6 linked regions of the Homo sapiens genome follow. The protein of the gene in region 4 interacts with the protein of the main gene of each other region in a pairwise test. Each region holds a gene or a part of one and is shown on either strand. Other genes may lie near its edges. The genes, in order: UNC5B, CLOCK, RALA, PPP2R1B, CRY1 and RORC.

Region 1 (4,879 bases), on a different chromosome or scaffold from region 4:
CTTAAGAGACCTCATTTTGCCCCACACCTGCACTGTGAGCAGGGTTTGGCCTGAGTGCCAGGTTCTGCTGTTGGAAGGGCAGAGGACAGCTTCCCCTGCTGAGTGCAGATGGGATAGGCCTGCCTGCAGGTGGGTCCTGGTGCTCCAGGGGGAGGAAGGTTGGCAGAGATGGACCCTAAGCCAGCCCAGCAGCTTGGGCTACTGCCCCCAGGAAGATCAGAGTCCCAGACCTGGAGTCTTCTGCAGTCAACTCCCAGCTTCCCCAGAGCATGGGAGCGGCTGTGGTTTGGAGATCTGCTCTCTGACCTGGGTCAGCTTATGCTTCAGCCTGTCTCCCCCAAAGGGAGTGAGTTCTCCTCTAGAGTTTGCTGGAGAAGGGGCCAGCAGAGCTTGAGTGGGTGGGATCCCCAGTGGAGAACCCCATCTCAGGCTGACGTGGCTGGGGCCTGGGACTCTCAGCGGTAGCAATTTAAAGAGGACAGACACACCCACACACATGCTGGACTCCACTGTCGTTACAACTTTCTTGGTCACAGAAGCGCTTACCTGCTTTCCCAGGGCTGTCCACAGGAAGGACTTCCATCACTTCAACTCTAGGATAAGATGGACTGTTCTGGAGCAGGGAGGCCTATAGGAAAATCACAGTCCCTCGCCCCACCCTGGTGTGCATGTTGCTTTACAGTTTACAAAACCCTTTTATATGTGCAGTCTCACTTTGTCCTTGTAAGAACTCACCGAGAAGGTGGAAGCTCTCACTTAGAAGGCTGAAGAGACAGGACTGGGACCCAGGTTTGTATTAGTCAGGGTTCTCTAGAGGGAAAGAACTAATATATATATAAAGGAGAGTTTAGTAAGTATTAACTCACACGATCACAAGGTCCCACAATAGGCCTTCTGCTGGCTGAGGAGCAAGGAGAGCCAGTCCGAGTTCCAAAACCGAAGAACTTCTAGTCTGATGTTCGAGGGCAGAAAGCATCCAGCACGGGAGAAAGATGTAGGCTGGGAGGCTAGGCCAGTCTCTCTTTTCACGTTTTTCTGTCTGCTTATATTCTAGCCCTGCTGGCAGCTGATTAGATTGTGCCCACCCAGATTAAGGGTGGGCCTGCCTTTCCCAGCCCACTGACTCAAATGTTAATCTCCTTTGGCAACACCCTCACAGACACACCCAGGATCAATACTTTGCATCCTTCCATCCAATCAAGTTGACACTCAGTATTAACCATCACAAGGTCAGAACTCCTAAGCAGCCCTGGCCACAGCCCTCGAGGAGGTGCTGTCTGTAAGTGTTGCTGATGTCCACTCTAGAAATGTTAAGTGGCATTCAGAGCATTGCAGATGCCATGTGAGGGTGACAGATGATATGCAGGGAAGAGCATAGCAGAGCCAAGGTTTTAAGGCATGGGGCTTCCTGGGGCAGGTGATGAGTGCCAGACCTTGACTGTCCTTTTCCAGTTCTTCTGAGAGCATGTCCTGAAGAGAGGATGGGATGGGGGCTAGCTAGCTGGGTATGTGGGCAGGGGTGCCAGCCGACCTCTCCTTACTCTTGGGAAATTTGCCCCTGTTAGCATCTGCTGTGTTCACTATCTTGAGGTGGACACCAATCCTTGGAGAACAAACCCTCTGGCCCCATTCCACCTCCCAGCATCCCAGGTTCTACTGAATGTGTGCGCTTGGGTCACGAACCCTCTCAGCTGCTTCTGACTCTGTGGGCTAGGACCATGGCAGGCCCTGGAGGCAAAAGGCCTTCTTCTTGGATCTCTCTGTATGGCTCCCAAAGGTGGAACGAGCCCAGAAAATACTTTCTAAGCACTGGTAGGGATCATATTGGGGGTGGAGACATGGGGAGGTATCTCCCTACTTTCTGCCCTGCCCCCACCAGAGAACACAAAGTGGGTAAGAAGGGGAAGGATGGAATCTGCCTAGCACTTCTGTGAGCCATTTGGCAGGGGTAGGGGTGGGGAGATCCTTTGTCATCACCACCTCTGGGAACCCCCAGCTGCTCTCTTTCCACACACACCTCTCCCCGGGGCCTTAGCTGCGGGTGCAGAAGAGTGCATGGCATTGCCAATTGGAATTCTAAGGAGGTTAACACGGCCTCCCAGCATTGTCACTGACTAACTTGGTGACGTTGGGCAGCTCACCTAACTGGACTGTACCTCCATTTTCTCATCTGTAAAATGGGGGTAATAATAACATCATCCTCAGAATTGCCTTGAGAGTCTCATGAGCTGATGTATGGTAAAGCCCTTAGCACAGTGCCCGGCACACAGTGATCACTCAGGGCCTGTTGGCATGCAGCCTGCCCCGGAGAGAGCCTAGCAATGCATCATCATCTTCCTCCACGGGAGTGAAAGCTGGGAGGTCAGGACCAGGAGTCTCAGCTGCTCCTGGCTGAGGAGTTAGTAGACTCTGGCTCTTGATTTTCATTTGCTGTGAGACCCTAGGCAAGTGCCTTTCCCTCTCTGGGTTCTGATTGTTTGGTTTCCCTTCCCATCTGTAAGTCCGGAGTGGGGCAGAGGTGGAAGGATGATCCATACAGGATGTGGGGTTTTTGTCTGGTTCTATCTGAAGAGGCTCCAGCAGTCAGAAAGAAACAGAGGTAGCCGAGGTCCAGAACCACTTGTGTTTACAGAGGCCCCTCTGGAAAGTCAGTATATTGACTGGAATGCCCTTGCACGCATTATGCAGCCCTGGGTGTCTCTCTCACCGAAGCCATAAATCACCCTCTGGGAACTCGGTCCCTTTTTCCTGCTCCATAAGCATTTCCTGCTTCAGAAACTGAGAACCCCAGATGCCAAGCAGGGCCCAGGAGGTAGAGAAGGGCCCCACTGGCAGAGGCAGCCTGGGCATGTGCGAGAAGGGGCCTGTGGTCCCCCCCCTTGTCACCCACTCCGAAGCTCAAGTGCGCCCTGCTGAGGGTGTTAGAGACAGACTTTGCAGGCCTGGCCCCCGTGTCATGCATAGCTTCATTTCTCAGAGGCAGGGGGAGGCCAATCTTGGGGGTTGGGGAATGAGGACTCCTGTCTCCATGTAGGGTATCAGAACACCAGCCCACCCTAAAACCTGATGCACATGCCCATTCATTCAGCCTGAGCAAGTGCTGAGCTCCGCAGTCAGAAGCTTAAAAACCATGGGCCTGACTCTTGAAGAACTGATGGGCTTTGTGCTGCTTCTTGAAGCATGGGCCAAGTGCCTGGCCTGTGATGCTGGGGTGCAAGGGGGATTAGGATGATGCAACAGATATGAATCATTCAAGCATGAGCCAAGATGTGTGTGTCTTGGGAGGGGTCTTGCGCGATGTTTAGAGGGCAGGCTGTGCAGTCACATTACTTGGGTTCAAATCCTGGCAGTGCCACCATCTGGCTGTGTGTCTTAGAGCAAGTTGCTTACCCTCTCTGAGCTTAGTTCTGAGCTTAGTTCCTTCATTTGTAAAATGGGAGTAGTAACAGCACCAATCTCATTAGATTTGGGGATAAATGAGATCATGCTTAAAAGTGTGTTGCATATTCTGAAGTGCTCAGTGACATTCACTACTGTCATCATCATCATCATCATCATCATCATCATATGGGCACCATGTATTGCGTGGAACGAAGGGAAATGTCTGGATGTTGAGAGGAAGAAGCTCTTGTGGTCTGGGCAGTCAGAAAAGGCTTCCTGGAAGAGGGAAGGTTTGCACTTGACTGGCCCTTGAAAGATGAGAGACTTTGGGTAAATGGAGAGTGTGGCCCTGGTAGGGGATGTGTACGTGAAGGTATGGGTGTGAATGTCTGGCACATCTACCCAGGAGACAAATTCTACATTCAGCTTCTGACTCGTGTCTGATCATCTAGCAACTCAAGACTTCTAGGGCCAGAGGTCTCTTAGTGGAAAGAGCCCCAGCCTTTAGGATTTGAATCTTCCAGAGGTGGCTCACTCTCTGTGCCTCAGCTTCCCAATTCATGAGATAGGCATGATTCCACCACCTTCACCAGGTGCTGATGTGACGTGAACACACACATATACAGTCTTGGCAGAGTGGGTGCTCTGTGGATTTCCATTGCCTTCCCTTCTCTTCCTGCCCCTCCTCCACCCCCCGATTTGGCTGACCTCTGGATAGGGCTAGGGCTGGGCCTGGGCCCTGATTCTCTCCCTGTGCATCTCTGGGCAGAACAGTGGGACAGAGAGTCCCAAAGTGGCAGTTTCCAGGTTGGCCAGAGAGCCAAGGAGAGGGGCAGGAAGAGAGAGGCTGCTTTTTCTGGTCCCTGGTGTTCACCTGGGCCTGCCCTGACCCAGGAGGCATCCCCAGGGAGTCTTCTGCTGAGATCACCCAGGAGCCTGCAACCCCCAGAGGCCCCAAGCGGCATCTGGAGGCATTACTGCCTTCAGGAGACAAAGCCCAAAGGAAAGCAGCTCTGTAATGCGATCAGAGGCGTCCGCCTGCCTGGCTGGGGACCTGGACACCCATGCAGGATGCAGAGCTTACAAGAAATTGAGTCAGGAATTCCAGGAAAGTTGTCCCTGACCCCCTCCCCCATCCCTATCCCACCTTTGGTCATTCTGTGACACAGCAGAGCAGAGTGACATTCGGAGTGAGCAGTGACCTGTGGTGGGATGGGAGTCTGTCGGATGGGGCAGCCTGCGTTCTTTCCTTTTCCTTGTCACCAAGCCAGGGCTCCAGGGTTGGGGAGACAGGTTCAGCAGGGGCAGCCAGCATGGATTGAAACGACTAGGTGATGGCAGAGCAGCCATGGCACTAGGTGACTAGGGAGGCTGGGCCTGATTTGGCTCACTCGTGTGGATTCCTGGCACCCAGAAGGTACTGAATAAATCTCTGTAGAATGGATGAATGAGAACTCATGGTCAGGCCTTACTCACCCGAGAAGTAGCTGTGATTTTG
Region 2 (4,879 bases), on a different chromosome or scaffold from region 4:
GACATTCAGATATTTGGAAATATGGAACTGTAATTCAGGAGAGAGGTCTGAATTTTGAATAAGCGTTTATAGGCATGTGTGAATGGAAAATGTGTAGAGTGAGAAGTACCCACCCAAAAGCTTGCATCTAAAGGTTATTTATTACCACATTCTTTAGTACTGGAAAATTAAAATATATTAACTTGTTTAGAAGGGCCTGCATTTTGGCTTATGCCTAGAATCCCAGCACTTTGGGAGGCTGTGGTGGGCAGGTTGCTTGAGCCCAGGAGTTGAAGACCAGCCTAGACAACATAGACCCCCCACCTCTACAAATAAAAATACAAAAATTAGCCGGGCGTGGTGGTGCATCCCTATAGTCCCAGCTACTTGGGAAGCTGAGGCAGGAGGATCGCTTGAGCCTAGGATGTTGAGGCTGCAGTGAACTGAGATCACACCACTGTACTTCAGGCTGAGTGACAGAGTGAGACCCTGTGTCAAACAAAGAAATAGGTAAATATATACATACATAGAAACAACTAACTTGTTTAGGAAAAGTTTATCTAGTAATGACTATTTATTTATGTATTTATTTAACCTCCACCTCCTGGGTTCAAGTGATCCTGCTGCCTCAGCCTGCCGAATAGCTGGGATTACAGGTGCCCGCCACCGTGCCCTGCTATTTTTTGTATTTTTAGTAGAAATCGGGTTTCACCATGTTGGCCAGGCTGGTCTCAAACTCCTGACCTAAGTGATTTGCCCACCTCAGCCTCCCAAAGTGCTGGGATTACAGGTGTGAGCCACTGCACCTGGCCATGACTTATTTTTATATGTAGCAATATTTAATATTCTTAAGGACACAAAGTATTTATAAATTTTAATTATTTATTTGTAGGAAATGTGCACTGTTGAAGAACCCAATGAAGAGTTTACATCTAGACATAGTTTAGAATGGAAGTTTCTGTTTCTAGATCACAGGTAATTCCATTTTTAAATTCCATGAAAAGGTAATAGTCATGTTATATAATTCTTGAAATTAATGGATCAAGGGCAAACTTTTTTTTAAATTAGGACTTTGAAACCTGTTCCCATTTTTTGAAAAATAAAGCCCCCCCCCCAAAGTTTATTTCTAGTTGAAATATTTCTTATTATGGAAAAACTTATAATAATGATTGTTTTCTGTGTAATTTAGGGCACCACCCATAATAGGGTATTTGCCATTTGAAGTTCTGGGAACATCAGGCTATGATTACTATCATGTGGATGACCTAGAAAATTTGGCAAAATGTCATGAGCACTGTAAGTAGATTTTAACATTTCTGGTGATAATAACTGTTTTATAAGCAGAAGTCCTGTCCTGAAATGATAGGTAGTAAGACACAGATTTATAATCATTTTCATATTTTTGAAATATGCTAAAAGATTTTGCTTTATGTATATAACCAATGTAGTAGGAATCATAGATCAAGTTTAAACTTGTTCCTATTTTTATAATAAGTAGAATTTTATAATATTGCATCTAATACACCTTGTTCTGAAGCACGTGAGCTCTATATCTGGAGTAAGAGAAGTAGATTCCTTTGAAAATTGTAATACTTCAAACTTTTGGAGTATTGTTTCCTAAATTTTGATTTTGAGGCATGTGAATCTTTTCAGGAGCTAGGTACATGTCTGGAAAATCTGTCTTAGAAAGCTCATAGTAAGTGCTTGGTGTTATCTGCTTATTATTGTTGTTAGAGCAGGAGCATTATCATCCTTTGTGCCAGGCACTGTTCTAAACACTTTACATCTATTATCTTCATTATTCTCCATCACAGTTCTAAAAGGTAGATGCTATTATTATCTTCATGAGTAAGCTGAGAACACAGTAAGGCTAAGTAATTCACCCATAATTTCATAGCTCATTGGTGGCAGAGACAGGATTGGAGCCTAGGCCTACTCTTTTTATCACATGTATTTATTTTAGAAGTTTGTTTTAATGATGAGGTTTGCCTTAATGATATGTTTTATTTGCTTCTCTGATCCTCCTCCCAGATGCTTACCATCTTGAGTGTTCACTAAAGCTTAACTAGATATTTTAGACCTTTTCATGACGTTTTATGCTGCTGTTATAAACCTCACTGTATGAAAATGAAGCAGGTTGTATAATAGCATTAACTCTATGGAAAATTTTCAGAGTAAAGTCATTTCAGCACAAAAGATGTGGGCATTAAGCACCATGATGTTGTCTAAAGAGCTGATACCTCTATTAACTAGCTGGGTAACTTTGGACAGCAAGTTTGTTTGTAGACCTTGATTTCCTCCTTAGAGAGTGAGAGGCGGTGGCGGCGGGGTTGGGGGGTGGGGGGACAGATTGAGAGATTCTTGACTAGCATTTTCTAAGGTTTGTTCCACCGAATGTTGGTCCATAAAAAAAGACTTTATAGTCAAGGAAGATGGGGAAACACTTCATAATCCCTCAGAGAATCTGCACATGCATTAGCATACTCTAGGTTTTGAGAAAACTGAAGACACCTATTTAACAAAAAGTTTCCCAAATTAATTTAACTACAAACCCTTTTTTTTTTTTTTTTTTTTTTTTTGGGATGGAGTCCTGCTTTGTCACCCAGGCTGGAGTGCAGTGGCGTGTCTCAGCTCACTGCAGCCTCCACCTCCCGGGTTCAAGTGATTCTCTTGCCTCAGCCTCGTGAGTAGCTGGGATTACAGGCACGTACCACCATGCCTGGCTAATTTTTGTATTTTCAGTAGAGATGGGGTTTCACTATGTGAGCCAGGGTGGTCTCAAACTCCTGACCTCAAGTGATCCTCCCACCTCTGCTTCCTAAAGTACTGAGATTACAGGCGTGAGCCACCACACCTGGCCCAAAACCCATTTTTTTGTTTAATATCTGTTAAAACGCTTCAGAACTTAAAATCCACAGCACATGTTTTGGCAGTTACTGCACTCAGTTACTTCAGACTCAGTTACTTTGATTTTGGTTAGTTAAGGTTTAAAATTAAATGCTTCAAAGATTCTGTGCCTGCCAGAGTAGTTAGGAGAAAAAACTCAGGGGTGATTATTTATTGTTATTACCCTCTGTATATCTAGGCAGGAGGAAGTCAGCAGTGTGAATTCTTAAGTATTAATTGTGTATGGAAAGATTGTAAGATCAGCAGTGACTAGCTGTGAATTGGGCACTGTAGATCTGATAATTGCTTGGGACCTTAAACTAGCTCTAAAGAATAACATTTTCATATTGACATATATGTTATCAAAAGGCCAGAAAAATAATAGTATGTGTAAACTTAAATGTAAATGATAGCTTTTGGTTAAAAAACAATCTTTATATAATATGAATTAAAGAAAAAATATTTCTCTATTTTCCTTTTAGTAATGCAATATGGGAAAGGCAAATCATGTTATTATAGGTTCCTGACTAAGGGGCAACAGTGGATTTGGCTTCAGACTCATTATTATATCACTTACCATCAGTGGAATTCAAGGCCAGAGTTTATTGTTTGTACTCACACTGTAGTAAGGTAATAATTCTTTTAGAGAATTTCTGAATTACTGTAACATCCTATGATGATTTTGGCATTGTAACTTTTATGCGTAAGTTGTTAAAGAGCTACAAAGTGCTCTTTTCTCAATTGCTGATAGATCCTTTCAATATATTATTAAATTTACTTATAGGCATTATATATAAATATAGGAATGATATAGATATATAAGTCTTGATATAAATTTTGTGCTTTACAGCAGAAGTTGTTACTGTCATTTATGTAGTAATGTCAGTCATGTAAAAGGAAAACTGTAGGTAGATAAGCATACACTTCCTTTATTTATTTTTCTTAATTTAAGTATTGTGTGGTTATGGATCGTTTACAGCAGTGTATGAAACTTTAAGATACCTAGAAAAATGCAAGTTAAATTAAGACATTATAGGTATATTTTAGGTTTGTGTAGCACATAGCAAATAGTCTAGATGAACAGATGAGACACGTAACAACACTGAATAGTTACAGCTGTGCAGTATTTTAAACGAATGACCAGACACTAAAATTTGATTATTTTTTCCATTTGTAGTTATGCAGAAGTTAGGGCTGAAAGACGACGAGAACTTGGCATTGAAGAGTCTCTTCCTGAGACAGCTGCTGACAAAGTATGTTTCTTATAATTAAAAAAAATTATTTTTAATTTCTCCCCAATAAAAGATGAAACTCAATAATTAATAGGAAAACTATTTTTCAAAAATACTTTATTTCCTCACTTATAACGGGGATGTGATTATACTTTACTACTTATTTTTAATTTAATATTTTAGAGTCTCACCTGCCTCTAAAAAGAAAATTGGATGAGAGATGTGTCTGATCTCAAAACTACCATTTATTCCCAGTGATGTACTAGTCTCTGGCTAGGTTATTTATATGAATTATGAAATATAATTTACACATCAGATATTTTTATCGGGTAGGTAATATCCCCACTTTGAAAATACTGAAATTGGGGTTTCAAGAGGGGAAAAAAAAATCTTCCCTAAAGACACTGGCTGGGAAATTATAGTCAGAATTGGAACTCTGGTTTCTTTTTTGTTATATCAGGTCAGAAGTATAGTATATTAGTTATCTATAGCTGTGTAACAACTTACTCCAAAATTTAGTGATATAAAACAACACACTTGTTATCTCCTAGTTTGGTGAGTCAAGAGTCCAGGCACAGTTTAGCTGGACCCTCTACTTCAGATTCTTTCATGAGGCTGTAATCAAGGTGTTGGTGGGAGCCACAGTCATCTCAAAGTTCAACTGAGGTGGCATCTGTTTCCACCTCACTTAGTGGTTGCTGGCACACTTCAGTTCCTCATGGGCAGTTGGACTGAGGGCCTTGGTTTCTTGCTGGCTGAAGGCTATCCTCAGTTCCTTTCCA
Region 3 (4,879 bases), on a different chromosome or scaffold from region 4:
GATGGGGTCTCACTCTGCCAGGCTGGAGTACAGTGGCGCCATCTCAGCTCACTGCAACCTCTGCCTCCTAGGTTCAAGCGATTTTCCTGCCTCAGCCTCCCGAGTAGCTGGGACTACAGGCGCGTGCCACCACGCCTGGCTAATTTTTTGTACTTTTAGTAGAGATGGGGTTTCACCGTGTTAGCCAGGATGGTCTCGATCTCCTGACCTCGTGATCCACCTGCCTCGGCCTCCAAAAGTGTTGGGATTACAGGCATGAGCCACCGTGCCTGACCCTAATTTTGTATTTTTAGTAGAGATGGGGTTTCACCATGTTGGTCAGGCTGGTCTCAAACTCCTGACCTCGTGATCCGTCCACCTCAGCCTCCCCAAGTGCTAGGATTACAGGCGTGAGCCACCATGCCGAGCTTTCTTTTACTTTTTTTCTTTTTTTTGAGACAGAGTCTTGCTGGACCCTCCAGGCTGGAGTGCAGCGGTGCAATGGTGCGATCACAGCTCACTGCAGCCTCAGCCTCCAAGACTCAAGTGATCTTCCCACCTCAGCCTCCTGAGTAGCTGGAATTATAGGTGCATGCCACCATGCCTTGCTAATTTTTTTTTTTTTTTTTTTTTTGTCAAGATGGGGTTTTAACATGTTGCCCAGACTGGTCTTAAACTCCTGGGCTCAAGCAGTCTGCCCACTTCAGCTTCCCACAGTGCTGGAATTACAGGCATGAGCTATCGTGCCCGACCAATTTGCCCATTTTCTATACGACTTTCAGTCTTTTTTCCTCTCAGCTTTGAAAAGTTCTCTCTATTTAAGAATATTAACCGTTTAATTTTGACATATGTTGCAGATATTTTTGCTAGTCGTCTTTTGGCATTGCTTGTGGTGATTTTTTGCCATGCAAAAGATTGTTTTTATATAGTCAAATATATAAATTTTAAATTTACTGCATCTGAAGTTTTAGTCATATTCAGGAAACTTCTTACCTTCAGGTTATAGAGAAATTCACACATGCTTTCTTCTGGTACTCATATAGTTTCATTTCTCACATTTAGTTCCATTCAGAGTTTATTTCTATGTATGATATAAGGAATGCATCTAATTTTATCCTTTTCCAAGTGGCTATCCAGTTGCCCCAATGACATTTATTTAAAAAAGAAAAAAAAATTCTTGTTCCTTCTATATGCAGTTGGGTATATTTTTTTTCTATTGGATTATCTCACCATTCATGCACCAGTACCACATCATTTTAATCATAGAGGCTTTGTAGTATGTTTTAATGTTTGGTAGGGCTAGTCACCCATTATAGCGCTTCCTCTTCATTGTTTTTCTTGCCTTCTTGTATGAATTTTAGCATCAATTTGTCTAAGTCTATGAAACAATTCATTGCTGGTTTTTTGTTTTTGTTTTTTTTTTTTTTGAGACAGAGTTTCACTGTGTCACCCAGGCTGGAGTGCAGTGGTGCGATCTCAGCTCACTGTACCCTCTGCCTCCCAGGTTCAAGCGATTCTCCTGCCTCAGCCTCCCATGTAGCTGGAACCACAGGCGTGTGCCACCATGCCCAGCTTATTTTTTTATTTTTAGTAGAGACAGGGTTTCGCCATATTGGCCAGGCTGGTCTCAAACTCCTGGCCTCAAGTGATCCACCTGCCTCGGCCTTCCAAAGCACTGGGATTACAGGCGTGAGCCATGGTGCCCGGCCTCATTGCTGTTTTTATTGGGATCACATTGAACTTATACTAACTTATGAAGAACTGACATCTTTTTTTTGGAGAAAGGGTCTCCCTCTGTTGCCCAGGCTGGAGTGCAGTGGTGCCATCATAGCTCACTGCAGCCTTGAACTCCTGGGCTCAAGTGATCCTCCTGCCTCAGCCACCCAAGTAGATGATAGTACAGGTGTGTGCCACCATGCCCTGCTAGAGAATTGACATCTTGATGGTATTGAGACATCTTAACCTAAAACAAACAATGTCTTTTTATTTTTTGCATTCTACTTTTGTGTCTTTGAGGAATGGTTTATAGTTTTCTTCATACAAGTTTTCAACATTTCTTGCTTATTCCTAAGCTATTTTATCTTTTTTGTTGCTATTATAGTTTTCTTATCATTTATGTATTTTAACTGGTTATTGTCCATTTATACGAATATTGTTGATTTCTGCATATTTTCCTGCCACCTTGCCAAATTGTTACTAAGTTGACTATGTTAGCCTCTTTTGCATTGCTATGAAAGTATACCTGTGACTGGGTAATTCATAAAGGAAAGAGATTTGTTTGGCTTACGGTTCTGCAGGCTGTACTGGCATGACACCAACATCTGCTTGGCGAGTTGAGGCCTCAGGAAGTTTTTACTCATGGAAGAAGGCGAAGGGTGAGCAGGTGTGACACATGGCAAAAGAAGAGTGAGAGAGAGGAGGAGGTTCTGGGCTCTTTTAAACAACCAGCTCTCATGTGAACTAATAGAGTAAGAACTTGCTCATTACTGTGAGGACAGCACCAAGCCATTCGTGAGGAATCTGCCCTATGACGGAAACATCCCCCGACTAGGCCCGCCTCCAACCTTGGGAATTACATTTCAACATGAAACTTGGAAGAGACACACATCCAAATCATATCAATTACTTCCATCATTGCTTCTCTCAGACTTTCCAGATATACTATTGTGTCATCTGTAAATAGTTTTTTTTCCTTCTTTTCCAGTGTTTATGCCTTTAACTATTTATCTAATTGCACTGACTAATATCTCCAGAACAAGATTAAATAGCAGTGTAACAATGTCTTTAATAGAGGTACTGATTGCTTCATTGTATTATCTTCACCATGGATATACAAATGTGTACATTTCAATGTAGATAATAGTTTGGCTATGTATATACCTTACAAGGGTTGCACACAGTCCTTCGCTGTGTCTTTAAGAGATGCTTATGGAGATTGGCTGGGCGTGGTGGCTAAGGCCTGTAATCCCAGTACTTTGGGAGGCTGAGGCTAGCAGGTAGCTTGAGCTCATGAGTTTGAGACCAGGTCGAGTAAGATGGTGAAACCCTGTCTCTACAAAAAGTACAAAAATTAGCTAAGTATGGTGGCATGTGCTTGTGGTCCCAGCTACTAGGGAGCTGAGGTGGGAGGATCACTTGAGCCCAGGAGGGGAGGCTTCAATGAGCTGAGATCATGCCACTGCACTCCAGGCTGGGTGACAGAGTGAGACCCCATCTCAATTTTTAAAAAATTAAATTTTAACAAAAGATACTTAAGGAGATGGATGTGGTAAGAAGCAGGAAAGGTCAACTTTCCTAGTGCATGGTAGGAAAATACGGTGTTTAGCATGGTAACTGCTCCATGGTTTCTCAGTTTATACAAGCAGCCCTGAGTTTTCTTGCTTCTCTACACAGTTTTCTGGATTTCATTTTGTTTTTTACCCAGCTAGTTATAGATGCCACAGGGTGACCTCCTTTTCCCTTCTAGGCTAAAGCTGTCATAGGTCTATGAAAATCTAGGGATTCCCTTCTAGGCTTCACAGTCTTAAGTGGTGTGTGTGCTTTGCAGATGAGCAAGGCTTGTTTTGTATTGATATGTTGCTGCCTTGACTTCTTGGATTTCTAGATCATATAGCAAGGTAAATGTTAGTCTGTTCTCGCACTGCTATAAAGACATACCCGAGAATGGGTAATTTATAAAGAAAAGAGGTTTAATTAACTCACAGTTCCACATGGCTGGGGAGGCCTCAGGAAACTTAAAATCATGGCAGAAGATGAAGCAGACGTGTCTTACATGTCAGCAGAAAAGAGAGAGAAGGGGAGAGAGAGAATGAGAATTCATGAGAGTGAGCAGGAGCGAGCATGTGCATGCAAGAGCAGGAAAAACTGCCTTATAAAACCATCAGATCTCGTGAGAACTCACTGTCACGAGAACAGCATGGAGGAAACTGCTTCCATGATCCAGTCACCTCCCACCTAGTCCCTCCCTCAACAAGTGGGGTTATGGCGATTATAATTCAAGATGAGATTTTGGTGGGGACACAGCCACACCCTATCAGCAGGTTTGTAATTAGATGAGTTTATCCACTGGGGGGTAATCCTAGAGTACATATCTGTGGGTGGTTCTTGACAAGTGTGTAAGGCCTGGGACATCTGGCTTTGAGGCAGTTCTTTCTCCAGGTTTTATTTATGCGAATCCACTCATCTGGCAGGAATGATTTGTTGGTGTGAAATCAGGTGTTGGCCCAGCATCCTGCACATGTTCCATCCACATGGCAGTGATGGTCATTGCACACCAGTGCTTGGTCTCCCAAGTTCTGGAGAGTGTTTTTATTTCACTGCCATCTAATTTATCCAGAAAGTTCAAGTAGCGTATTTTCTGTAGATTCTTATAATTTCAAGATTACCAGGTCCCTGTGTGAACTCTCAGACCACATCCTGTTGCCTTTCTCTGTCATTCTATTGTTTTCTCTCCCAGGAGGGCTGGGTGGTAGGGTATTTATTAATTTATTGCCCCATATACTAATGAGTTCCTTCCTAGAACTCCTTACAACTCTCAGTCCATGGCCTGTTGTCCATCTTTGCTGTCCCAGGAGTGCTGGTAGGTAGAGTATTTAATGATCTCTTCTTGTCCCTAGGTTGAGGAGCCCTCACTCACCTTGGTCCATTCCTTGGTCCATTCCAGCTGTCTGTTTTCACTTTTCCTGTGACCCATGTCACCTTTTTCTCTCTGGGTCTTGCTGCCTCACTGGTATGAAATTCAGACTTGGGTGGGGCAGACTTGGGGGTTTCCTGCCTTGAAGATCCTCAGATCTTGTCCTGTGGTACATGCAGCTACCCTGATGGCACACTTCAGCAGGAGGGTGATCTTTTCTGTTCTTTTTTGTTGTTGTCTTATTTCCTCTGCCTGCCCCCACCATTT
Region 4 (4,573 bases):
CTGGTTTCTTTAAAGCTAATGTGTCTTTGTTTAAAAAGTTTCATTTATTTAAGTTTAAATATAGTATCAAAAATTATAATGATACCTAATATTTACTGAGTAATTACTACATGGCAAGCATGAGCCTTAGTGCTTTGCATGTATTTTTACATGCAATTCTCACAACAATCCTGTGAGGTAGGTCTTATTATTATCCCTTTTTGTTTGTTTGTTTGTTTGTTTTGTTTTTTGAGACGGAGTCTTGCTCTGTCGCCCAGGCTGGAGTGCAGTGGCGCAATCTCTGCTCACTGCAAGCTCCGCCTCCTGAGTTGATGCCATTCTCTTGCCTCAGCCTCCTGAGTAGCTGGGACTACAGGCGCCTGCCACAGCACCCAGCTAATTTTTTGTATTTTTAGTAGAGACGGGGTTTCACTGTGGTCTCGATCTCCTGACCTCGTGATCTGCCCGTCTCGGCCTCCCAAAGTGCTGGGATTACAGGTGTGAGCCACCGCACCCGGCCAATTATCCCATTTTACAGATGAGAAAGCTGAGGCATAGAGGGTTAAAGTAACTTGAGCAAGGTCTTTCAACAATGACAGATCTGAAATTTGAGTGCATCTGATTTAGTTCCAGAGATTATGCTCTTTACCATCTTACGGACTTTTCTTGTAGTCTTTAGTATTACGGACTTTTAATTGAAATTTCTGATTAAGATCATTTATGTTCCTTGAGTTATTTATGTATTCACTATTATTTCTTCAAGATTATCCATTTTTTTTTCACCTGAGTCTTACCTCACCTTTTATCTTACCCTGACAGGAGACTGTTGGGCAGAGTACTTGATTTTTAAATGTGGTCTTTTGGGGCTTGTGTACTTGCAGTGTCCTGACGTTCGTTTGAATATCATCTCCAATTTGGATTGTGTAAATGAAGTGATTGGAATCCGTCAGCTCTCTCAGTCTCTCCTTCCTGCCATAGTGGAGCTGGCAGAAGATGCCAAATGGAGGGTCCGCCTGGCCATCATTGAGTATATGCCGCTGCTGGCAGGCCAGCTGGTGAGTATGTGTTGCTCCATGAACTGCAGGGTAGTGTCAGATAGTGACAATTTACCATGGCAAGTAGGAGGCCTAGTAGCCTGTATGCTTATGTTTGTTTAGATGCATGAAAGTATGGCCTTGTTCTTGTTACCTATAGGATGGTTTTTATGTTTGTTAGTGCATACGTTTCTTTTCTTTTAAGATGGAGTTTCACTGTTGTTGCCCAGGCTGGAGTGCAATGATGCAATCTTGGCTCACTGCAACCTCCACCTCCTGGGTTTAAGCGATTCTCCTGTCTCAGCCTCCCAAGTAGCTGGGATTACAGGAATATGCCACCACACCCAGCTAATTTTGTATTTTTAATAGAGATGGGGTTTTACCATGTTGGTCAGGCTGGTCTTGAATTCCTGACCTCAGGTGATTCACCCGCCTCAGCCTCCCAAAGTGCTGGGATTCCAGGCGTGAGCCACTGCATCTGGCCTATTAGTGCATACATTTCTAACAAAAAGGTATAGGTTGAGTATCCCTCATCTAAATACGCTTGGGACCAGCATGTTTGGGACCAGAAGTGGATTTTGGAATATTTGCATTATAAATATTTACTGGTTGAGCAGCCCAAATTCAAAAATGCAAAGTCCAGAATGCTCCAATGAGCATTTCCTTTGAGCATCATATCAGTGCTCAAAAAGTTTTGGATTTTGGAGCATTTCACATTTTGGATTTTTGGATTTGGGATGCTTAATCTGTATTACAGAAACATATTTCACCTCATCACCACCGAAAAACAAAGCCATAGAATAATCAGTTTCTTGGTATATATAATGTAAATTTTATAATATTTAATGCCTTTGTGACTTAAGAAATGTTTAACTGAGAAGAAAAGGGATTATGGTTTTAGGGTAAGTCTGCTGTGATTTTTGCTCAAGGAAACTTCCCTGTTTGCCTTGTATTCTAAGCAAAATGTCCCTAGGTACCACTTGCCCTACATTCTGATTAAAGGGAGTTGAGGAATCACCATATAGAAAAGAAGTATTGAAAGGCCGGGCACAGTGGCTGACACCTGTAAACCCAGCACTTTGGGAGCCAGAGGCAGGCGAATCACTTGAGGCTAGGAGTTCCAGACCAGCCTGGCCAACATGGTGAAACCCCATCTCTACTAAAAATACAAAAATTAGCTGGGCACGGAGGTGCACACCTGTAATACCAGCTACTCGGGAGGCTGAGGCAGGAGAATCGCTTGAACCCAGGAGGCGAAGGCTGCAGTGAGCCAAGATTGCACTACTGCACTGCAGCCTGGGCAACAGAGTAAAACTTTGTGTCAAAAAAAAAAAAACAAAACAAAAACAAAAACTGAAGCTTGTAATGTTAGTATTTTGGTCAAAGTCCACATTATCACATTATCTGTTACTGTTTGAGTTTCGTGATCAGTGTTACCCTAACTAATACCATGTTAGTTAAAATTTCAAAGCTGGGTTTTATAGCCACATCCTTTCCTTTTTTTGAGTAGGTGGCCTAGACAGTTCTAAGTTTGATGTACCTTCATCTCTGTTGGTAGCACTTATTACAGAGTATTGTAATTGTCTGTTACAGTCTAGTTGGAGAGATGGGTGATCTCTTTTAGGGCAGGGACTGTATTTTATTTCCAGTCCCTACCATAGTGCCCGTCATTAATTAGGCACTTAACATTTTTTATTTTGGGGGCAGGGTCTTGCTGTTGCCCAGGCTGGTCTTGAACTCATGGCCTCAAATGATCCTCCTGCCTCGGCCTCCTGAGTAGCTGATAATAGGCATGAGCCACTGTGTATAGCCAACATTTGTTGATTGTTGAGTATTTTTTGAGAAAGATGTGTCAGTTTACTATTGACATCGCTACAGTTTGTTTCCCCTTCCTCACTCCCACTTCCATTCCTTTCAGGTCACAACATATGGAATTTATTTTTTCTTGTCTTGAACCCCTGAATTTGTATTTTTAATTTTAGTACATTTAGTTTATGAACATGCAATTTGTGGATGTCTGTGGCATTATATGTTTTATAAAATTGAAAGTGTCCGATTCTTTGAAAAGTATACCAGAGGTATTAGTGCATGGCAAATGGGATCAGGTGAAGTTATTTTGTCATCCTTTTTGTCTGTCACTCCCAAGTGCTATGGGTCATCTTCTCTTCACTGGTGATTGTCATGGATCTACTTTTCAGAGTGGAGAGGAGCAGTGATTAACTGATTTGCTGAAGACCAAAACTATCTGGAAGGGAGGGTGCATTTTAGTACCATTTCTTTTAACCTCTGCTCCTTCTAGACCTGGAAAGTTTCCCAGGGTTGCTAGCTCTATAGAGAGCAGTGTGAAAGCAAGGCAGATGGTGTCTTTGGCTGACTTACACCTGTCTGGCAGGGGTGACATGCCTCAGTCATGAACATTTTGCTTTACAATTTTAACTTCTTGTTAGTATATATATTCTCCTTAATTTCTCTTCATATCTAAATATTTTTATATCAGATAGTCATTTTATAAAATTCTCTCAAGACTTTATGTATGACCTGGCTTGTGGACGATGTTAAGTAAGTGTAAAGTTAAACTACAAAAACCGGAAAATAGGCCAGGCGTAGTGGCTCACGCTTGTAATCCCAGCACTTTGGGAGGCCTAGGTGGGTGGATCACCTGAGGTCAGGAGTTTGAGCCCAGCCTGACCAACATGGTGAAACCCCATCTCTACTATACAAAAAATTTAGCCGGGTGTGGTGGTGGGTGCCTGTTACTTGGGAGGCTTCTTGGGAGGCTGAGGCAGGAGAATTGCTTGAACCCAGGAGGCGGAGGTTGTAGTGAGCTGACATTGCACCACTGTACTCCAGCCTGGGCGACAGAGAGAGATTCCGTCTCGACAACAACAACAACAACAACAACAAACTGGAAAATAAAAGTTAATTAAAACTGAAGGAAAATTCTCAACCTGAAATGAAAAAGAAATCTTGGCTGACGTAATCTAAGTGTATGCCAAAATTTGTTCATTATGATCTTTTAGTACAAAGCAATTTTGGGCCAGGTGCGGTGGCTCATGCCTGTAATCCCAGCACTTTGGGAGGCTGAGGCGGACGGATCATCTGAGTCAGGAGTTAAGAGACCAGCCTGGCCAACATGGTGAAACCCTGTCTCTACTAAAAATACAAAATTAGCTGGGCATGTGCTGCATATCTGTAATCCCAGCTACTTGAGAGGCTGAGGCAGGAGAATCACTTGAACCCGGGAGGTGGAGGTTGCAGTGAGCTGAGATTGTGCCACTGTACTCCAGCCTGGGCAATAGAGTGAGACTCCATCTCAAAAAAAAAAAGCTATTTTGTCTTATTCAATCACTATTTTCAAAGCACTGACACATTATATTACCTCTCTTTTTTTAAAATATAGAATCACCAGTCAGGAACTTCTTAGAGTTCAAAGAAGCAAGACTGTAAATGTGTAGACCCCAGAAGGGAGGCACTAGGAAAGTGTGTCACAGCATTCTCCATGTGGTGTGGAAGCCCCGGGGTTAGAGGACTGTGTAAATCTGCTCCCGGAGCCCATCCCC
Region 5 (4,879 bases), on a different chromosome or scaffold from region 4:
TTAGTTAAGAAAGTCAGTGGCCCTGTGAACATGGCCAAAAGATTTATTGTACACATGCATAGAGCCCTCTAGTCTTTTTGCACATAAGTTTTTCTTATAAAGTCTGGTCTGTAGTAGTTTTCTGTATGATACAAATTTAGTGACCATGTAAATTCTTATGTGTGATATTAATAATTTCAGGAACTCAGTATGTGTTAGAAATTTGAACCATCATATTAGTTTTTGGCTTTGACCAAAAATAGCATGAAGCTCAGTAATTTGATTAAAAAATAGGACAGCATCAGTGAGAATGGTGATTATTAAAAAGTCAAGAAACAACAGATGCTGGTGAGGATGCAGAGAAAAAGGAAGGCTTTTACATTGTTGATGGGATTGTAAATTAGTTCAACCATTGTGGAAGAGAGTGTGGTGATTCCTCAAAGATCTAGAAGCAGGAATACCATTTGACTGAGCAATCCCATTACTGGGTATATACCCAAAGGAATATAAATCATTCTGTTATAAAGATACATGCACACGTATGTTCATTGCAGCACTATTCACATTAGCAAAGACGTGGAATCAACCTAAATGCCAGTCGATGATAGACTAGATAAAGAAAATGTGGTACATATGTACCATGAAATACTATGCAGCCATAAAAAGGAACGAGATCATGTTCTTTGCAGGGACATGATGGAGCTTGTAGCCATTATCCTCAGCAAACTAAGGCAGGAACAGAAAACCAAACACCTCATGTTCTTGCTTGTAAGTGGAAGTAGAATGATGAGAACACATGGATACATGCGGAGAACAACACATACTGGGGCCAGGTGCAGTAGCTCACACTTGTAATCCCAGCACTTTGGGAGGCCGAGGTGGGTGGATCACCTGAGGTTGGGAGTTTGAGACCAGCCCCTGACCAACATGGAGAAACCCCCGTCTCTACTAAAAAGACAAAATTGGCCGGGCGTGGTAGCGCATGCCTGTAATCCCAGCTACTTGGGAGGCTGAGGCAGGAGAATCACTTGAACCCAGGAGGCAGAGGTTGTGGTGAGCTGAGATCGCGCCATTGCACTCCAGCCTGGATAACAAGAGCAAAACTCCATCTCAAAAACAAAAAACAACAAAACACACATGCTGGGGTCTGTTGGGGGGGCAGGGGCAGGGAGAGCATTAGGAAGAATAGCTAATGCATGCTGGTCTTAATACCTAGGTGATGGGTTGATCTGTGCAGCAAACCCCCATGGCACATGTTTGCCTATGTAACAAACCTGCACATCCTGCACATGTACCCCAGAACTTAAAATAAAAATTGAAGGGAAAAAAAAGAAAAAAGAAATCTATACATGTGATAAAAGAGCATAAAATCATACAAACACTTTGTATCAATGTCAATACCTGGTTATATTGTTGTACTGTAGTTTCATAAGATGTCACTAAGAAGATAGGGAAACAGGACCTCTTTGTACTAACTTTACAACTGTTTGTGAATCTATATTTTTCAAAATAAAAAAAACAGGATAAAAACAGGGTAGCATTTGAGGAATGCTTTTTTAAGTCAGATGTTCTAAGTTGATATTAAGAATAAAACCTTTTAAAAACTGAACCTTTTTGAATTCAGAAATGTCCTGCATCCTCATGAAAACAGCATGTATTTTATCCTCCAAGAATTAGTTTTGGGAGAAGGGGACAAAAGCACTCACATTTTGACTGCCTACCTTTGCCCAGTAGATAGTAAGGGATTTTTGCATACTTTCTCACAGTAACCTGGGGAGGAGGTAGTGGGATCCTCATTTTATATTTGGGGAAATAATCCTAGAAAGATTAGGTAACTTAACCAAGATCCCACAGTTAGTAAGTAGTTGAGCTAAGATTCAGATCCAAGTCTGACTAGCTCCAAAGCTTGTACTTCTTCCTGCATCATTGGGCCTCCTCTGCAAATGGAATGCCATAAGTGTTTACAAGAGAAAATATTTTATTCCTGGAATGTGATCCACCCAGCAGTCGACAGTTGCCAGTGATGGCAGTATACTTGAGAAATGTTCCTTCTCAGTATCTCCTACAATTTGAATAAACTTCCACAAGATAATCATTTCAAAAGTTCTTTCAGATCTCTTGTTCAGTTCACAGCCTGCCTTGTCAGCCCACACATGAGTGAGGGACAGAAGCTCTGTGAAGCACTAAGATAACAGGCAGGTAGCAATGGGCTAGGAACCAAGGGTTGGGCTAATACACAATGATGGCACAGACTGCTTCTTAGACCACTCAAACCTGTGTCGTTTATTTGGAATTATCTTCAAAAGCTAATCATAGTAGCAGGTTAAATTGGGACAATTTTGCTTCACAAATGTATATAGGGTAGTTTATTATATAATAGAAGAATTAATAAATCTTGAAATTATTTTAATCATGTAAATATTTGCCTGTAACATAGTTTGTAGCCAGCTTCTTGGAGGCTTTCAAAAGACATGAGACATGAAAAGCTAAGTAGAACTTAAGTATAAATGGGGGTGTGGAGGGAAAACAAAAACAAATGAAAAAGTGATAAATTATAAGATGCTGCCTCCATGTGCAATATGAGAAAAGGGAGAGATTATTGAGAGCTGAAGGGACTAGAGAAACTTTCTTGAAAGGTGGCAGGATTGAGTAGCATTTGGGTAGTCAGATGAAGGAAAAAAACATTTTAGACCTGGAAATGGGAAATTGTGAAAAGACACGGCTTGGGCTATGCTATTAATATTAAACATTTCTCCTCTCAGGTTTCTGCCCCATTTGAAAGGACTTAAATGCTTCTAAAGCATATCCTTTTATGCCTTACACTTATCCTGTCTGTAGGCTTTTATAGTACCTTACAAGGCATGTCAAAGGGCAAAATTCTTTTACTTGTCTTAGTTTTTTGTTTGTTTGTTTTTGTTTGTTTTTTTAATGACTGTGGAACATTCTTAATCTCTGCAACACAAATTGCATTTTTCTCTGCTCATCTTTGTATTTGTGTGTGTGTGCACATGTGCTCAGGAAAGGAATAAACTATACATAGAAGTCTTACTTTTGTTCTTATAATAAAACAGACTGTAATATGTTTACTACTGTAGCAATATGTTTTAGTTTTTATTTAACTTTTAGGTTTTTTTATTGTAAAATATCAGTTCATCGGCATTATTAGTCATTAGGGAAATGCAAATTAAAACAACTATGGGATAGTACTTCATACTCACTTAGGGTGAGCAACTGCCACTGATTGCCTGGGATTGAAGTTAATTAAAACGAAAGTAAGTGCACAGTCTTGTTCAGGCCATAAGGTGTTGACCTATCCACCTGCTCGTGGATAGGTCCAGAATGCTCATATTTTTCCATAAACTGGACACACTGACAGAAATGTTTCCCTAAAACATACTTCTCTGTTCTAGCCAACCTATTCTCCTATAATAGTGTTTGTTTTTAGAAGGGTTGATAGGATTGCTTAGGCTAGGTAACTGCCACATAGTCTGTGTCTTCTGCTTGTCGTATGATTTGAATTGTTTAACTCATCGGGCAGGCCCTTATTCCCTTATCCTCAAGGAAATATGTTTGGAGGAGCTCTGAAGGAAAAGCGTGGGAAAAGGGACAAGAGTGAGGGAGGAATGTCTATCTCACTCTTGCCCCTATGTTTTACCTTCATGGTCAAGTTTCAAATTGTCATCTAGTAAGGAAATGTTTTTTAGAAAATGATCATCAATGATTTTTCCTTTGAGCTGTCAACACTTCTGTGAGCCTAAATTTAAGTTTTCCTGGTTTGAGCATGTGATTTTTGGTTCATAGGAAGATTGAGATTTAGTCTTAAAAGCATATAAATGACCTTAAGTACAAGCGCTAAAAGTTGGATTTGTAGACTTAATAATACATACATCTTGGATTTGATTTTAAGTAATTTTACTGTGTTTTAAATACTAACAGGTTGCTCTCAAGGGAGTGGTATTTTACACTATGCTCATGGCGACAGTCAGCAAACTCACCTGTTGAAGCAAGGTAAGAATGAAGCATTGGAGCATACTGTTCTTTTTCCTTTTCCTATCTTAAACATACATTTTTTAAATGTGCAGGAAGAAGCTCCATGGGCACTGGTCTCAGTGGTGGGAAACGTCCTAGTCAGGAAGAGGACACACAGAGTATTGGTCCTAAAGTCCAGAGACAGAGCACTAATTAGGTAAATATTTTAGAGCTGTATTTCTTGCTTTAGAAGAGTATATAATTAACATAAATTAAGATAATTTCAAAAATGGAGCAAATCTCTATTTTCAAACCAGAAAATCTTGAGGCATTAATTTTTAAGCAATTTTTACAAACTCAGTTAATTTTTGGTCAAGAGACATGCATCTGTACTGGAGAAATTGTTGCACCAGTTTTATATTCATCTGAACCAATGCTCTTTAAATTAGAGATGTTTATGATTTTGTGGTCAAGTTTTTTCTTAGAAAAAGACAACTTTTTTATTTCCTTACTATGTAACTATGAGTCTAAAACAATTAAAGTGGCCTGTTTATTTTAGTGACATTAATATAATCTTTTTATGAACTTTCCCCTAAATCTTTGCCTCTTAAATGTTGATAAATTTCTTTTATCTGTTATGATGCTTCTAAAATCTAAATTATTTCCAATTTGGGAATAGTTCAAAATTTTTTAAAATGCTGGCCCTTATTAGAAGTATCAGAAAGCCTTGCCTGCATTCAATTTAATTGGATTTGGGATGTCATTTTGTGATTTAAATTAATATGAAAAATATTTATACGTTGGATTTGCCAGTTTTTAAAAATTTTCTGTTTCTTCAGTTTCTAACACTGTTTACATTTTTTATTGCTTAGTTTTTTTATGTCAACCTAATTAGACTATAAGTATCTTGAAGATAAGGTCAATAAACACT
Region 6 (4,879 bases), on a different chromosome or scaffold from region 4:
AATCCTAGTGCCTAGCATTGAATGAGCTATGTGGAATATCAGGTTACCAGGGAGAAGGTAGCTTGGAGTCAGGAGATCAGAAATTCTCATACCTTTCATCTCTTCCCAGTTTTCCTTGTAGACAGCTAGCCAAGCCCAACGTCCAGAGCTTACCATTATCAAACCAAGGCACACACATGCACGCGCTCAGCTTAGAAGACCTCTATCCAGCACAGATGTCCACAAAGATACACCCTTTTGTTGGGAGTTAATGTCCATGTTCTTTCTTGTTCTCATTACGGTCCCACCCCCTCCTCCAGATCGGCCAGGGCTCCAAGAGAAAAGGAAAGTAGAACAGCTGCAGTACAATCTGGAGCTGGCCTTTCATCATCATCTCTGCAAGACTCATCGCCAAAGCATCCTGGCAAAGGTAGGAGCAGTCCCTGGGGTAGAAGAGGCCAGGCCCATCGCTAGCTCTGTAACATCAGAGTTTGCGAGGGCCGGGGTCTGTGGGTACAGAGGAGGGAGTGCGGGAGTACCACTCTCTGTTAGAGAGCTTGCATCAGCAGTGGGAACTAAGGGAATGAACAGCTACTTCCACGTGCATAAAGACTGGAAAGTTAGAGGGCCTGGGATTGGGAGGGACCTCCAGGGAACAATTCAGTTTAATATAGCCAGCACTTACCCAGCACCTGCTTGTACAAGGCACTGTGGAAAGACACAGAGATTTGGTCGCTGCCCCCACCAAGAGATTTTAATCTGGTATGAAGAAGAGATCTGTGTATCACTAACTCTAACATAGAGTAGAATGTGGTATGTGATATAATAATAATGCAATTAACAGAGTGCTTTTGCTGACATGCTTTCTCATCCTCATGGCAACCCAGTCAATAGGACAGGTGTTCAAATCTCCCTGTGTAGCAGCCGGGCACAGTGGCTCACGCCTGTAATCCCAACACTTTGGGAGGCCAAGGCGGGTGGATCACCTGAGGTCAGGAGTTCGAGACCAGCCTGACTAACATGGTGAAACCCCATCTCTACTAAAAATAAAAAAAATTAGCCAGGCATGGTGGCAGGCGCCTGTAGACCCAGCTACTTGGGAGGCTGAGGCAGGATAATCGCTTGAAACCGGGAGGCAGATGTTGCAGTGAGCCAAGATTGTGCCATTGCACTCCAGCCTGGGCAACAAGAGCAAACTCTGTCTCAAAAAAAAAAAAAAAATCTCCTTGTAGCTATCAGGAGACTTCAGTGACTTAAATGCAAGATTGAATCCCAGTGCTCTTTGCGCTCTTTCTATCCCTGTGTCCCCTATGTATAACTATAATAAGTGACACCAGGAAAATGTTATGAGAGTATAAAACAGGGATTAAAAATAATTTGGGGGTAAAAGGAGTGGGTCATAAATACTTCCCAGGGAAGATGACATTTATACTAGGCCATGAATGATGTAAGATTTTAACAGGCATTCATGGGGGTGGGGCAGGCATTCCAGGCTTAGGGAACAATAGGAGCAAAACAAAAAAAATGAAAAAAAATCCTTTTCCTGAGGTTTAACCAAAAAAATGGATGAGATGAGTATGAGAGGCTGGGGATAATTGTTTTATGGGATTTGGGTGTGGGACTAGGGTACAATGAAGACCAAGAACAACAGGAGAAAAATAAGGAGGCAAAATAGTGTGTATGTGGAGAATCACTCATGGTACATCCTCACTAAAGTGTAAAATCAGGAGCTGGGATAGACTGGTGGGGCAGAAGAGCACCAGATGATCAGCCTGAAAATTAGGTCAGGGGCAAATCAGAGAGGACTTTCAATGCCATATAAGCGTTAAAGCTTTATTTCTAGGCCACAGGGAGCTCCAAAGGCTAGAAAAATGACACAATCAGAGCTGTCATTTAGGCAATTTACTTTGGAACCAGTATAAAGGAACCATTTATGTAATTATTCAAGCAGGCCTTTGCTATGTGCCAGGCACAGGGCTGGGTGTTAAGGATACAGCAATGACTTACACGGTCTGTGCTCTCAAGAACTTGAACTTTAATCTGCTACAGGATGGATTTGAAGGAGGAGAGACAGGAATCTGGGAGAGCAATTGGAAAGCACATCCGGTTGGATCTGCTTTCAAAATACATCACCTTCCCTACTATTACCACCACCCTGGCCCCTACCAGCTCTCAGCTTTCACTTGGACTTTAAGAGAGGCCTCCTAACTGAGCCCCTGTTCCACCCTCATCTGCCCTGTAGCAACCACACCTACTCCGCACCCACGGTAGCCCTTTTAAAAATGCAATCTCATCATGCCCTACTCCTGTGGTTTTTTTCTTGTTTTTGTTGTTGTTGTTTGTTTGTTCTGTTTGTTTGTTTTGAGGCAGACTTGCTCTGTCGCCCAGGCTGGAGTGCAGTGGTGTGATCTCGGCTCACTGCAACCTCCACCTCCCAGGTTCAAGCGATTGTCCTGCCTCAGCCTCCTGAGTAGCTTGGATTACAGGGATTACACGCCCGGCTAATTTTTGTATTTTTAGTAGAGACAGGGTTTCACCATGTTGGCCAGGCTGGTCTCGAACTCCTGACCTCAGGTGATCTGCCCACCTTGGCCTCCCAAAGTGTTGGGATTACAGGCGTGAACCACCACACCTGGCCTTGACTCCTGTTCTCAGCCCTCCTGTAGCTGCCTGTGATGCCGAGAATCAAATCTAGAGTCTGCGTCATGGTCAAGTGGCTCATAACATGATCCCTGCCTTCTTTTCTCACTTGATCTTCCACTGCCCCTTCAAACACCCATTGCAGCCACACTTGCTTCCTTGCTATTCCTCGAACACATCAAACCCAGTCGCAGGGCTTTTGTACCTGCTATTGTAGTCACCTGGAGGGTTCTTCCCCCAGTTTTCCAAATGGCTTACCCCATCTCTTCATTCGGGAGAGGTTTTTCCTGACCAGTAACCCCATACAAAAAGCTTTAGTTTTCTTTAAAGAACTTATTATCTGATACACTACATATTTATTTTCTGGGCCCCTCACCAGAATGTAAATTTAATCAAGGTACAGATTATACTTTATTGACTGATATATCTGATATATCACTAGAGGCCATCACAGTGCCTAGCTCAGATCCAGATGTGTTCTCAACAAATATTTGTTGAATGAATGAAGGAAGCTATTGCCATAGCCCAAAAAAGCTCAGAATAAAGCAGTGGTGAGGAAGAGAGAGAATCTAGGAGATATGAAGGGATCACACCCTGCTGCCTGCTTTTCTCTGACTGCCTCTTTCCAAGGAAACTAAGCTGGGGGAGGGAGGCAATGGCAGGCAAGAGACATTTTTAAGCCTCTTGGTTGTAGAGGAGACTGCAAGAGATAAATTGTTCTTTCAGCCTTGCTCCAGTGAGGTCTCCCTGCCTCCGTCTGCTCACTGGTTTCTGTGCCTTTTTCATCTCCCCTTTGGCTGAGTGCTGGCAGCATTGGTTTGCTACTTGCAGTGTTAGGTGCCTGCTTAGAAAGTCTGTTTAGTTCAAAGAGTTATTAAGCATGTGCCATGTGCTAAGCATTATGATAGGTACAGAGGAGACAGGGAAAGAGAGACCTCAGCCAAGGAGCTGAAATCTAGGGTGGGAAGGCAGACAAATTGGACCATTTTCCTGCAATGTAGTAAGTGCTACACAGAGGAAAGCCCAAAAGAAGGGCCCTTAATCCAGATGGGAGGCAGTTAGGGAAATAGTCTTAGGAGAGGTGACACTAGAGGGTAAGGATTAGTAATGGGAAGAGGGGAACAACATGCACAAAGGCAGAGGCATGTGACAGCATACAACAAGAGTCACAGACAATCACTCTTATAAAAGCAGGAAGTGCACATTAGAGTCTTTGACAAGGTTCATTCTAGAAGTATTGGGAACATAAATTGAGGGCTTCACCCAGAAAACATTCACCTGTGCCCCACCCACTCTCACTTCCCTCCAGTGTCCTGAACACACACGTACTTCTACCAGTGGGATTTGGCTGGTGCCAAAGTGCCAAGTACATAAGGGGAAGGCAAGGAGGGTTTGTCCTAGCCCAGGAAGAATGAGCGGACTTCTTTGCTCTGAGGAGAGCTGAAGTATTGACCCTCCCTTCCCCATTAACCCATATCCAGCTGCCACCCAAGGGGAAGCTTCGGAGCCTGTGTAGCCAGCATGTGGAAAGGCTGCAGATCTTCCAGCACCTCCACCCCATCGTGGTCCAAGCCGCTTTCCCTCCACTCTACAAGGAGCTCTTCAGCACTGAAACCGAGTCACCTGTGGGGCTGTCCAAGTGACCTGGAAGAGGGACTCCTTGCCTCTCCCTATGGCCTGCTGGCCCACCTCCCTGGACCCCGTTCCACCCTCACCCTTTTCCTTTCCCATGAACCCTGGAGGGTGGTCCCCACCAGCTCTTTGGAAGTGAGCAGATGCTGCGGCTGGCTTTCTGTCAGCAGGCCGGCCTGGCAGTGGGACAATCGCCAGAGGGTGGGGCTGGCAGAACACCATCTCCAGCCTCAGCTTTGACCTGTCTCATTTCCCATATTCCTTCACACCCAGCTTCTGGAAGGCATGGGGTGGCTGGGATTTAAGGACTTCTGGGGGACCAAGACATCCTCAAGAAAACAGGGGCATCCAGGGCTCCCTGGATGAATAGAATGCAATTCATTCAGAAGCTCAGAAGCTAAGAATAAGCCTTTGAAATACCTCATTGCATTTCCCTTTGGGCTTCGGCTTGGGGAGATGGATCAAGCTCAGAGACTGGCAGTGAGAGCCCAGAAGGACCTGTATAAAATGAATCTGGAGCTTTACATTTTCTGCCTCTGCCTTCCTCCCAGCTCAGCAAGGAAGTATTTGGGCACCCTACCCTTTACCTGGGGTCTAACCAAAAATGGATGGGATGAGGATGAGAGGC

What was found.
Region 1: the proteins of PPP2R1B (region 4) and UNC5B interact in a two-hybrid assay, tested with the Homo sapiens proteins (one study listed by BioGRID).
Region 2: the proteins of PPP2R1B (region 4) and CLOCK interact in a two-hybrid assay, tested with the Homo sapiens proteins (one study listed by BioGRID).
Region 3: the proteins of PPP2R1B (region 4) and RALA interact in binary tests that used the Homo sapiens proteins (3 or more experiments, as listed by UniProt).
Region 5: the proteins of PPP2R1B (region 4) and CRY1 interact in a two-hybrid assay, tested with the Homo sapiens proteins (one study listed by BioGRID).
Region 6: the proteins of PPP2R1B (region 4) and RORC interact in a two-hybrid assay, tested with the Homo sapiens proteins (one study listed by BioGRID and IntAct).

What each region holds. Positions count from the first base shown.
Region 1 is NC_000010.11:71,218,454-71,223,332, forward strand, and holds part of UNC5B (netrin receptor UNC5B isoform 1 precursor), read left to right. Parts: intron 1-1,154; exon of another isoform or gene 1,155-4,879. UniProt on the Homo sapiens protein: Receptor for netrin required for axon guidance. Mediates axon repulsion of neuronal growth cones in the developing nervous system upon ligand binding.
Region 2 is NC_000004.12:55,452,293-55,457,171, reverse strand, and holds part of CLOCK (circadian locomoter output cycles protein kaput), read left to right. Parts: intron 1-871; coding exon 872-954; intron 955-1,168; coding exon 1,169-1,275; intron 1,276-3,347; coding exon 3,348-3,495; intron 3,496-3,774; exon of another isoform or gene 3,775-4,042; coding exon 4,043-4,118; exon of another isoform or gene 4,119-4,865; coding exon of another isoform or gene 4,866-4,879. UniProt on the Homo sapiens protein: Transcriptional activator which forms a core component of the circadian clock.
Region 3 is NC_000007.14:39,629,620-39,634,498, forward strand, and holds part of RALA (ras-related protein Ral-A precursor), read left to right. Parts: intron 1-2,276; exon of another isoform or gene 2,277-4,879. UniProt on the Homo sapiens protein: Multifunctional GTPase involved in a variety of cellular processes including gene expression, cell migration, cell proliferation, oncogenic transformation and membrane trafficking.
Region 4 is NC_000011.10:111,748,620-111,753,192, reverse strand, and holds part of PPP2R1B (serine/threonine-protein phosphatase 2A 65 kDa regulatory subunit A beta isoform), read left to right. Parts: intron 1-860; coding exon 861-1,034; intron 1,035-4,573. UniProt on the Homo sapiens protein: The PR65 subunit of protein phosphatase 2A serves as a scaffolding molecule to coordinate the assembly of the catalytic subunit and a variable regulatory B subunit.
Region 5 is NC_000012.12:106,992,073-106,996,951, reverse strand, and holds part of CRY1 (cryptochrome-1), read left to right. Parts: intron 1-3,915; coding exon 3,916-3,987; intron 3,988-4,061; coding exon 4,062-4,165; exon of another isoform or gene 4,166-4,879.
Region 6 is NC_000001.11:151,806,855-151,811,733, reverse strand, and holds part of RORC (nuclear receptor ROR-gamma), read left to right. Parts: intron 1-299; coding exon 300-409; intron 410-4,100; coding exon 4,101-4,262; 3' UTR 4,263-4,879. UniProt on the Homo sapiens protein: Nuclear receptor that binds DNA as a monomer to ROR response elements (RORE) containing a single core motif half-site 5'-AGGTCA-3' preceded by a short A-T-rich sequence.